Regions from separate parts of the Homo sapiens genome. Here region 2 is linked to region 1. The links come from fine-mapping of genetic effects on gene expression. A gene starts in region 1. The other region holds a variant in brackets. All regions are shown on one strand. Distances are from middle to middle.

Evidence for each region. PIP is the estimated chance that this variant, and not a neighbour inherited with it, causes the effect.
Region 2: its variant is fine-mapped to the expression of ZNF778 in sigmoid colon (GTEx, PIP 0.95).

What each region holds. Positions count from the first base shown.
Region 1 is chr16:89,215,185-89,219,572 of GRCh38, reverse strand. ZNF778 (zinc finger protein 778) reads right to left here and starts at 1,870. Exons shown (of 7, transcript NM_001201407.2): 1 at 1,663-1,870. It overlaps ZNF778-DT (ZNF778 divergent transcript), which reads left to right and starts at 1,920. Exons shown (of 1, transcript NR_186410.1): 1 at 1,920-4,388. RefSeq lists enhancers at 454-983, 984-1,514, 2,039-2,088, 3,038-3,332.
Region 2 is chr16:89,096,412-89,100,799 of GRCh38, reverse strand. It overlaps ACSF3 (acyl-CoA synthetase family member 3), which reads right to left. Exons shown (of 11, transcript NM_001243279.3): 2 at 2,037-2,209; 3 at 1-138. The coding sequence starts at 118. Among named protein-coding and RNA genes, the nearest start is that of ACSF3, 4.8 kb to the right of the region's middle. The variant C/A (reference allele first, on the strand shown) is at 2,403.

The DNA.
Region 1 (4,388 bases):
CCTCTAAACGGTCATCTATGCAGCTGACCACTTACCTTTTCAGAAATAGGCTGGGGCTTGGAACCAGGACAGAGTAGAGAAGGAACAGCTAACATGGGACATGAGGTGACTAAGGCTGAACTCAGCCATCTGAGACCTCGTGGACCCAAAGGCATAAGGTGCTTACTATCCGCCCTTTGCCAACCTCTCCTCTGAATTCAATTACAAGTTCATAGGAAGCAGCAAGAAATGGAGGAATATTTAAACGTATCACGAGAAAACAACACCAAAGTCAATATGATAGAGAAACCACAGGGGTTGTTCTAGGTGAAAAGACATAAACGATGGGAACAGATAAACCTTGAAGGGCTCTTAGTCCCCAAAATACCCAACAGCGCAATGTTGGAAAAATGTTGAGAATCCTAGATATTACACAAAGTAGACAGTGGATGACCTCCTTCTTATTTTTTTATTTTTTTATTTTTTTGAGACGGAGTCTTGCTCTGTCGCCCAGGCTGGAGTGCAATGGCACGATCTTGGCTCACCGCAACCTGTGCCACCCAGGTTCAAGCGATTCTCCTGCCTCAGCCTCCCGACTAGCTGGGATTACAGGCATGCGCCACCATGCAAGGCTAATTTTGTACTTTTAGTAGAGACGGGATTTCTCCATGTTAGTCAGGCTGGTCTTGAACTCCCGACCTCAGATGATCCACCCGCCTCGGCCTCCCAAAGTGCTAGGATTACAGGCGTGAGCCACTGTGCCCAGCGGACCTTATTATTTTTAATTATTATTATTATTTTTTGAGACGGAGTCTCGCTCTGTCGCCCAGGCTGGAGTGCAGTGGCGCCATCTCGGCTCACTGCAAGCTCCGCCTCCCGGGTTCACGCCATTCTCCTGCCTCAGCCTCCAGAGTAGCTGGGACTACAGGAGCCCGCCACCACGCCCGGCTAATTTTTTGTATTTTTAGTAGAGATGGGGTTTCACCGTGTTAGCCAGGATGGTGTCGGTCTCCTGACCTCGTGATCCACCCGCCTCGGCCTCCCAAAGTGCTGGGATTACAGGCGTGAGCCACCGCGCCCGGCCTAATTTTAATTTTCTTAGATGAAATACTAATATTGTGGTTTCAGTAGGATAATGTCCTTACCCTTAACAGACGCTTTACCAAGTATTTAAAGGTTAAGTATCATGTGTGCAGTTTAATTTCAACTTACTTACACTCAAATAATAATTCACCGTAAGGTTTATTTATTGGGGGAGAGAGAAAACATGGCCCAAAGCTAAAAAGGAGTAAAACGATTGCAGTGGATATTCCTTGTAGCAGATGTTCACATTTTTATTAGATTCAGATTTTCTAAAGCAAAACGTGAGAAAAAATACAGTTAGTCGAAACACACTGTTCACCGTGGATTCGATTACTCCAAGACCAGCGGGACAACGGCCGCATCCCTCCCGCCCCGAGGGCCGGGCCTGGAAGTCCCGGCGGCGAGGGACGCGCGCTCCCGCTGGCCCCCACGGGCTAACTTTCACAGGGAGCTGCACGCCCGGGGCGCTCAGGGGTCTACCTTACGCTTCGGTCCCAACACAATGTGCCAGAAACAAATAAAAAACGTCAAAGCCGAAGCCAGATTCTCACAGAAACACGCCCTGTTCAAAGTGAAGGAAGCAAAGGGCCCCTCTCTCACCAGCTCCGCGGAATGGAAGCGCTGCCCGGGTCTACCGCGAGCGGCGGCGACTTTCCCTTCTGGAAGCGGTGCCGGGGGCGCAAGGCGCGAGGCAGGCGGGCGGGCGCCCACTCCCGGACCAGCTTCCCCGCGGACAGCCCGAGGACACGCGCGGAACTCTCCGGCGCCAGCACGCACCGCCGCAAGAACCGGATCAGCTGTAAGACAGGCGGAGGCGGGGCCGGCGCCGGAAGAGGGGCCGGCGCGTCTTTGGCGTCACTTCCGCCTCCAGCCTCCGGGCCGAAGCTTTGGCCTATGGTGCGGGGAGGTAGTAGTTTCTTCCGCGAGGGTGCGGGAGGGCCCCGGGGCGCCCTTGGGAACCGGGCTGGAGGCAGAGACAGGCCCGGAGGACCAGGCGGACGTAAGGATCAGGCCTCTGGACGCAACTGCGGAGCCGGAACAGACCAGGAGGGCGCGGTTGGGCGGGTACAGCCAGGAAGTGCTCGTCGCGAGCGCGGCCCGCGGTTCGGTCACAGCGAGAAGCCCGCGGGTGCTGGGAGTGCTCGGTCTTCTCTCGATCTCTGCAGGGAGTCACTGGCCCCGTTCCTTTTTATCTGTCTGAACATCACGCCGAACTTTTAACAGTTGATTCCACTGCATTTTCAATGTGGTATTTTTTTTTTCTGTAAATGTTCATCTATTTTTCGCTTCAAATATGCGTTTCTGTTACTTTTCTAATGTACCGTAGGAGCCAAGACCACCTATACTACGTTGCAAAATAGCACTGATACCAGGGGTTCTCCCAAGGTTCATTCAGAAATGTCACATGATTCCAGTAACAATACGAAAAGGTTTTTTTTTTGGAACCAGGCATATTGATCCTGGAGTTCACATGGAGGAACAAATGTCTCATAACGCAGACGACGCGGACAAACAAAAGCGCAATGCCCGACAGATGCGAAAACAGCCTCTGTCATTAAAACTGTGTGCTAGTGACACATGAACAGGAAACAAATGGAATATCCAGACATCAACCCAGTAACATGGAAATTTGGTTCATAAACATAATTTCAGAGCGGTGGAACAAACATGCAGTTTATAATGAAAGGTGCTAAGACAAATGGTTAGCCGTCTGAGAAATGATGAAATTAATTCTGGATCTCACAGGGATAAACTCCAAACGGATCAGGAGTCTAAATGTGAAAAACAAAACAAAACCACATGTGAAGTGTTCACGTGATTTCGTGGCTGATTAAGAAACAAGATGTGCCCAGGAGGTGGCGGTGGCGCACAAGCTTTGACAGGTTGGAGGGTGAGGGAGTCTCACGCACCATGAGATTACCCACAGGCTTCGAATTGGGGGTCACTACTCAGAAAAGAGAAAAAAATGAGCGTGGGCGGGGGGCGCGCAGAGAACTCCCAGAGAAGAAGGAGATCAGACAGGGGGAGGGCTGACGTGACTAGATCACGTTTCTCAGCAGCCTGACAGGTGTCTGAGTCACAAAGCTCTGAAGGGCAGCAACGGCTTGCAGTCTTTAGAGCCCCAGGATTTATCTTATCTATGGCTAGCAGAGATTGGACACAATTTCACGAAGTATACAAAGCAACCACATGCTAAATGGTTCAACACTATGAGTGTTTGGGATGTGTTTTATTTATTATTTATTAATTTTGATACGGAGTCTCCCTCTGTCGTCCAGGCTGGAGTGCAGTGGCACGATCTTGGCTCACTGCAACCTCCGCCTCCCAGGTTCCAGCTATTCTCCTGCCTCAGCCTCCCAAGTAGCTGGGATTACAGGTGCCCACCTTGTAATTTTTAGTAGAGACGGAGTTTCACCATGTTGGCCAGGCTGGTCTCAAACTTCTCACTTCAGGTGATCCACCCGCCTCGGCCTCCCAAAGTGGTGGGATTACAGACGTGAGCCACTGCAGCCACCGTGCCTGCCCTTGGGATATGTTTTTTTTTCTTTTAATTTTGTTTTGTTTTGTTTTTTTGAGACGAAGTCTTGCTCTGTCGACCAGGCTGGAGTGCAGGGGCACAATCTTGGCTCACCGCAACCTCCGCCTCCCAGGTTCAAGCGATTCTCCTGCCTCAGCCTCCAGAGTAGCTGGGATTACAGGCACGTGCCACCAAGCCCAGCTAATTTTTGTATTTTTAGTAGAGATGGGGTTTCACCATGTTAGCCAGGATGGTATCTATCTCTTGACCTCGTGATCCTCCTGCCTCAGCCTCCCAGACTGCTGAGATTACAGGCGTGAGCCACCGCACGGATATGTTTTAAGTAACTGAATGTATTAAAATTTGACTTTGGCACCAGCAGGCTATTGTGAATAATGTTGCTTTGAGCATCGTGTGCAAAAATATCCTGGACCCTTGTTCTCAGCACTTTTGGATATATATGCAAAAGTGGAATGGCTGGGTCACATGATAATTCTGTCTGATGTTTTGAGAAACCACTGTCCTGTTTTCCAGAGCTGCTGCACCATTTTGTATTCCCATGAGCAGGTGCACAAGGTTCCAACTTTACCACATCCAGCCAACAGTTACCTCCTATTTAATGGCTAAGAGCCATCACCACCGGGGTAATGTGATCTCACTGTGGCTTTTGTTTTCATTTCCCTAATGTTTAGTTATGTTGATCATCTTTTCATGTTCTTATTGGCCATCTGTTATCTTCTTTATTATAAGTCCTTTTCTGAATTAAATTGGTTTTGTTGTTATTCTTGAGTTATAGGAGTTCTTAATA
Region 2 (4,388 bases), 120 kb after region 1:
AGCGGGCCACTGGGGCTGTGTGCAGAAGACCACTTCCTCTGTGTCTCGCAGGCGCCAGCCGGCAGGACGCCAAGGCGCAGCCCAGGCGCCGGAAGGTGAGCACCACATGGGGCAGCATTGCACTGACAGGCGGCCGAGCTGGAGAAAGGCAAGGCACAGGACGTGAGTGCCCAACTGTCCCATCCAAACGTGGCCAAGACAGGATTTAAAACACCTCCCCAGTACCCAGCCAGGTACGCCTGCTGCACCTTCAGTCATGAGGCAGCGCACCAGACAGGCCACGTCCAGCCTTTCTCACCCACACTGCTGGAACGTTCCGTACGTGCCCAGCATCTCAGCTTTCTATTTCACTTCATGAGTTTAAGGATTCCCAAACCACACAAAATTCTAAACAATGAAATAAACTAGGTAAAACCAAGGAGAAGCATATAAAATTCAACACACTTAAGGTACATCTGAATAATGGGTTTTAGAATCCTGAGCCTGGAAAACCACCCGTGAGAGGGGGAAGTGCAGAGAAGAGCTCAGCACAGCCCCCGCTCACAACAGGCATGGCCTGGAGACCCCGCCCCCGGGGCAGACACGGCGCTGCCTCTCTCAGACCCTTCCCACACTGGTGCGCAGTGGAAATGTGGTGAGGTGCCAAGGTTCGTTTTTTTGAGACAGGGTCTTGCTGTGTCGCCCAGGCTGGAGTGTAGTGATGCAATCATGGCTCACTGCAGCCTCGACTTCCTGGGCTCATGCCATCCTGTGGCCTCAGCCTCCCGAGTAGCTGGGCCCACAAGCATGTGATACCACACCCAGCTTTTTTTTTTTTTTTTGGTAGAGACAAGGTCTCACTGTATTGCCCAGGCTGGTCCAAAGTCCTGGGGTTATGGCAGGTGTAAGCCATGCTTTTTTCCTTCTTTTCTTTTCTTTCTCTCTCTCCTCTCTCTCACCTTTTTTTCCTTTCTCTCTCTCTCTTTATTATCTATCTGGGATGGAGTCTCACCCGCTCTGTCTATCTATCTATCTATCTAAGATGCAGTCTTGGTCTGTCACCCAGGCTGGAGTACAGTAGTGTGATCTGGGCTCACTGTAACCTCCGCCTCCTGGGTTCAAGTGATTCTCCTGCCTCAGCCTCCTGACTAGCTGGGATTATAGGTGCGCACCACCATGCCTGGCTAATTTTTGTATTGTTAGTAGAGACGAGGGGTTCACCATGTTGACCAGACTGGTCTCCAACTCCTGACCTCCGGTGATCCACTCACCTTGGCCTCCCAAAGTGTTGAAATTACAGGTGTGAGCCACTGCACCCAGCCAAGCCAAGCTTTAAATCAGGCAATTCACAGAGCTAGAAAACGTGTTTTAGGTTGAACTATAATTCTCTCCTTTCCCCCCAAAAACTTAACTACTAAATAACAAATAAATCAGCAGGAAGCGAGGGCTCCCTGGGAGGGGTCGCGCGGGCCCGCCGTCCACTGGAATTCTTCATTCAGAGAAAGGAGACCGAGAAGAAGCCAGGGTGCCTCCGCCTGTGGGCCCAACGCTCCTGACGCGTGAGGGCTGGTCCAATTCTGCAACATGCATTCTGCAGCCAGAGGACACTGCCCACGGGACACCGCCCCAGGATGCGGACACAGGCCAGGGGCACAGCCCCCGCATTCCAGAGCGAGAAGAAGGGGTGGCACTCTCCACGAGGCTCCTGCATCCCTGGCCCTTTATAATCAAAGCTTTGCTCGACTCACAGTAAGAATAGGCTGGTCTGCCTCCCTTCCTGGGGGAAGCACCCTCTGGGCTCTGCTGCCACTGGGCACTCAGCGGCCCTCGGTCTGACAGCGTCCCAGGCCTGTGGCCGAAGCGTAGTCAAGTTGTCCGTTTGGTTTTCAGGGACTTTGAACAAGTATTATTTTGACAATGATGCTACCGTCTAATACACACATATTAGGTTAGGTTTCATCTCAGCATTTTGCCTCAACCACACTCTGTTCAGTAAACAAACAAGGCAACCACTTGTTCGCACACAGAAAAGCAAAGGAGGCCAAGTTCAAACTCACCCAGCTCCCGAGCCAGAGAGAGGAGGTAAGGGGAAGTTCGCAGTTCACAAGAGCGGCAGGCACAGCTGCTTCAGCAGGTGGAAGGGCACGATAAGGTGCAGGCAATGCAAATGCTCATCCTCCTGGGGCAGGCACCAGGCCTGGCGCTGGAACCCGGAAGGCCGGTGGGACACCTGTCAACGGGCATCTGTGCTGAGGTCCCAGGCTGTGTGTATAACGCTTCCCACAGGCACAACACTCAACACTCAATGGGGGAAGGGAAGCATGTTCATTTACAAGCTAAAGACAACATTATCAAATAAAGCTGTGAGCCTTATCTCCCGACAACGGGCAGCAGTGACCCCATGACCCTGTCGAGTCTCCTCC[C/A]ACACACCACGCCCCCTCTGTGGGATCTGTGCCCATGTTCAGCAGGTTCTCTCTCTCCAGCACATCTCTTTCATTAACTTGTGAGGGGAAAGCTACTGTGTTATTGTCTGTGGTTTGTACTAAACAGTTTTGTTTTCTGCTCTTAGTTTGAAACCGTCACAACACTTCATAGTTGTCTAACAAAACAAACTTCATGACAATGAAAATTGTCAGAGCCAAAGTATGTTTTGTGCTTGAGACCCTCAACTACTGGCCTTGGTTTTTGCTTGTTTGATTTGGGTGTCTGGTTTCCCCACTAGCCTGGGGCTCTTTTGTTTTTTTTTTGAGACGGAGTCTCGCTCTGTCACCCAGGCTGGAGTGCAGTGGCACGATCTCGGCTCACTGCAAGCTCCGCCTCCCAGGTAGCCTGGGGCTCTTAATGAAGTCCCCTGTCCCAGCCAGCTGAGGGATCTCCTGCCTCTGGCCCAGGCAGGAGGAAAACGAGCCACGCAGGGCCCTGAACCTCAGCACAGCTCCGCGGGCTGCTTGGACGTCCTGTGTGAGTCTTCTCTGAATCCTACCAAACGGTCAGTCCTGCAGGCCACATCATCTCCTGACGCGAGGCACCCATGTTCTAGAAGCCCTCCACAGCTGTTCAGAGGCAGGGCAGTGGCTGGTCCGCCCACACACCTGGACTCTGCTACCATAGAGAAACCCAGAGAATGGCAAGAAAACAACTGGGCTTCACCAGACACAAGACACGAGATCGGCACGTGGGCTGTGCCAGCTTCAGAAAGCAGCAAACCAGGGCGGCCCCACCACGCTTCCTTCCTCACTTCCAACCGATCCTGCACTGCTTTACAGGTGTGAGGGCACAGAAACAAGGAGAATCCACACACAGAAAACCGACTGGGCACTGGGTGCTCTGGGTTACGGCCCCGAGGCCAGACTTCCGCTGCTGAGAGCCACAGGGAGTGCCTTGGGTGCTCGGAGCAGGGGACGGTGCTTTCTGGGGTGCTAAGGAGCGGAGCACTAGGACGGCCGGCGACACTCACTCAATATAGAAGGTGCCTGTCATTGTGTGTAGCTGTTTCTCAATATGACAGAAGCACATAAAAGGGGGATGACGGCTTCCCTCTAACTAAAGCTGCTGCTCAGAAAAGGTTTCTGCAGACCACAAAGAACCGAGTTCTGACAAAGCGAGTTCAAGCTCGTGCTGTGCACACGGTAACCACACGCTGAGCACACGCTAACCACACGCTGAGCACACACAGCACACACTACCAGAGCACAGCCCCCCTTTTGGCATTTCTACAAATTCCTGAGTCACCCCGCAGGGCGAAGCCACGGAAGAATAAGAGTGGATTCCCCACAAAACCCAGAGCTCAGCAGAGCTGGTGATGCTGACGTGCACAGCTGGGCTGGGCAAACTCAAAGTGCAGGCTGAGAAGAAACTGCTGTTCTCCTGCGCGGAATCCAGAGCGCTGCCTGTGGGTGGGCACTCCTGCCACCAGCCCCTGGGAGGTGACAGATGTGACTGGCCCCGTGTGACATGGTCCCAGCTCCCAGAGAGCCCACGCGCTATGAGGAGAGGCCACGGGCAGGAGGAACGGACGGGGGCCTGGTGGGGAGGCTTCCTATGGAGGGTGAGAAGGGCCTGGCCTAGCCAGAGTCGGCCGAGGGAAGGGGGGAGTCCTGGCACCTACAGCTGTGTTCACTCGGGGTGTCTAGGGCACAGATGCCGGGAAGTCACATTGCTGGGTCATCTTTAATTTTGAGAAATACTGACAAAGTCCCCTCCAACGAGGTGCTGATTTATTCTCCCACCAAGCATGTGGAAAACGGAACCAGCCCCATCAAACCAGCTTTTCAGTCCCTCAGGCTTGGGACAATGAAGTGCCCAGTCATCAGTTCTCTTCAGCACAGAGGTTGAATCTTCACGGTCATCGGATCAGAGCCCTGCCTCGAACACGCAGACAGAGCCTACTCAGGGCAGATGGCTGTGCG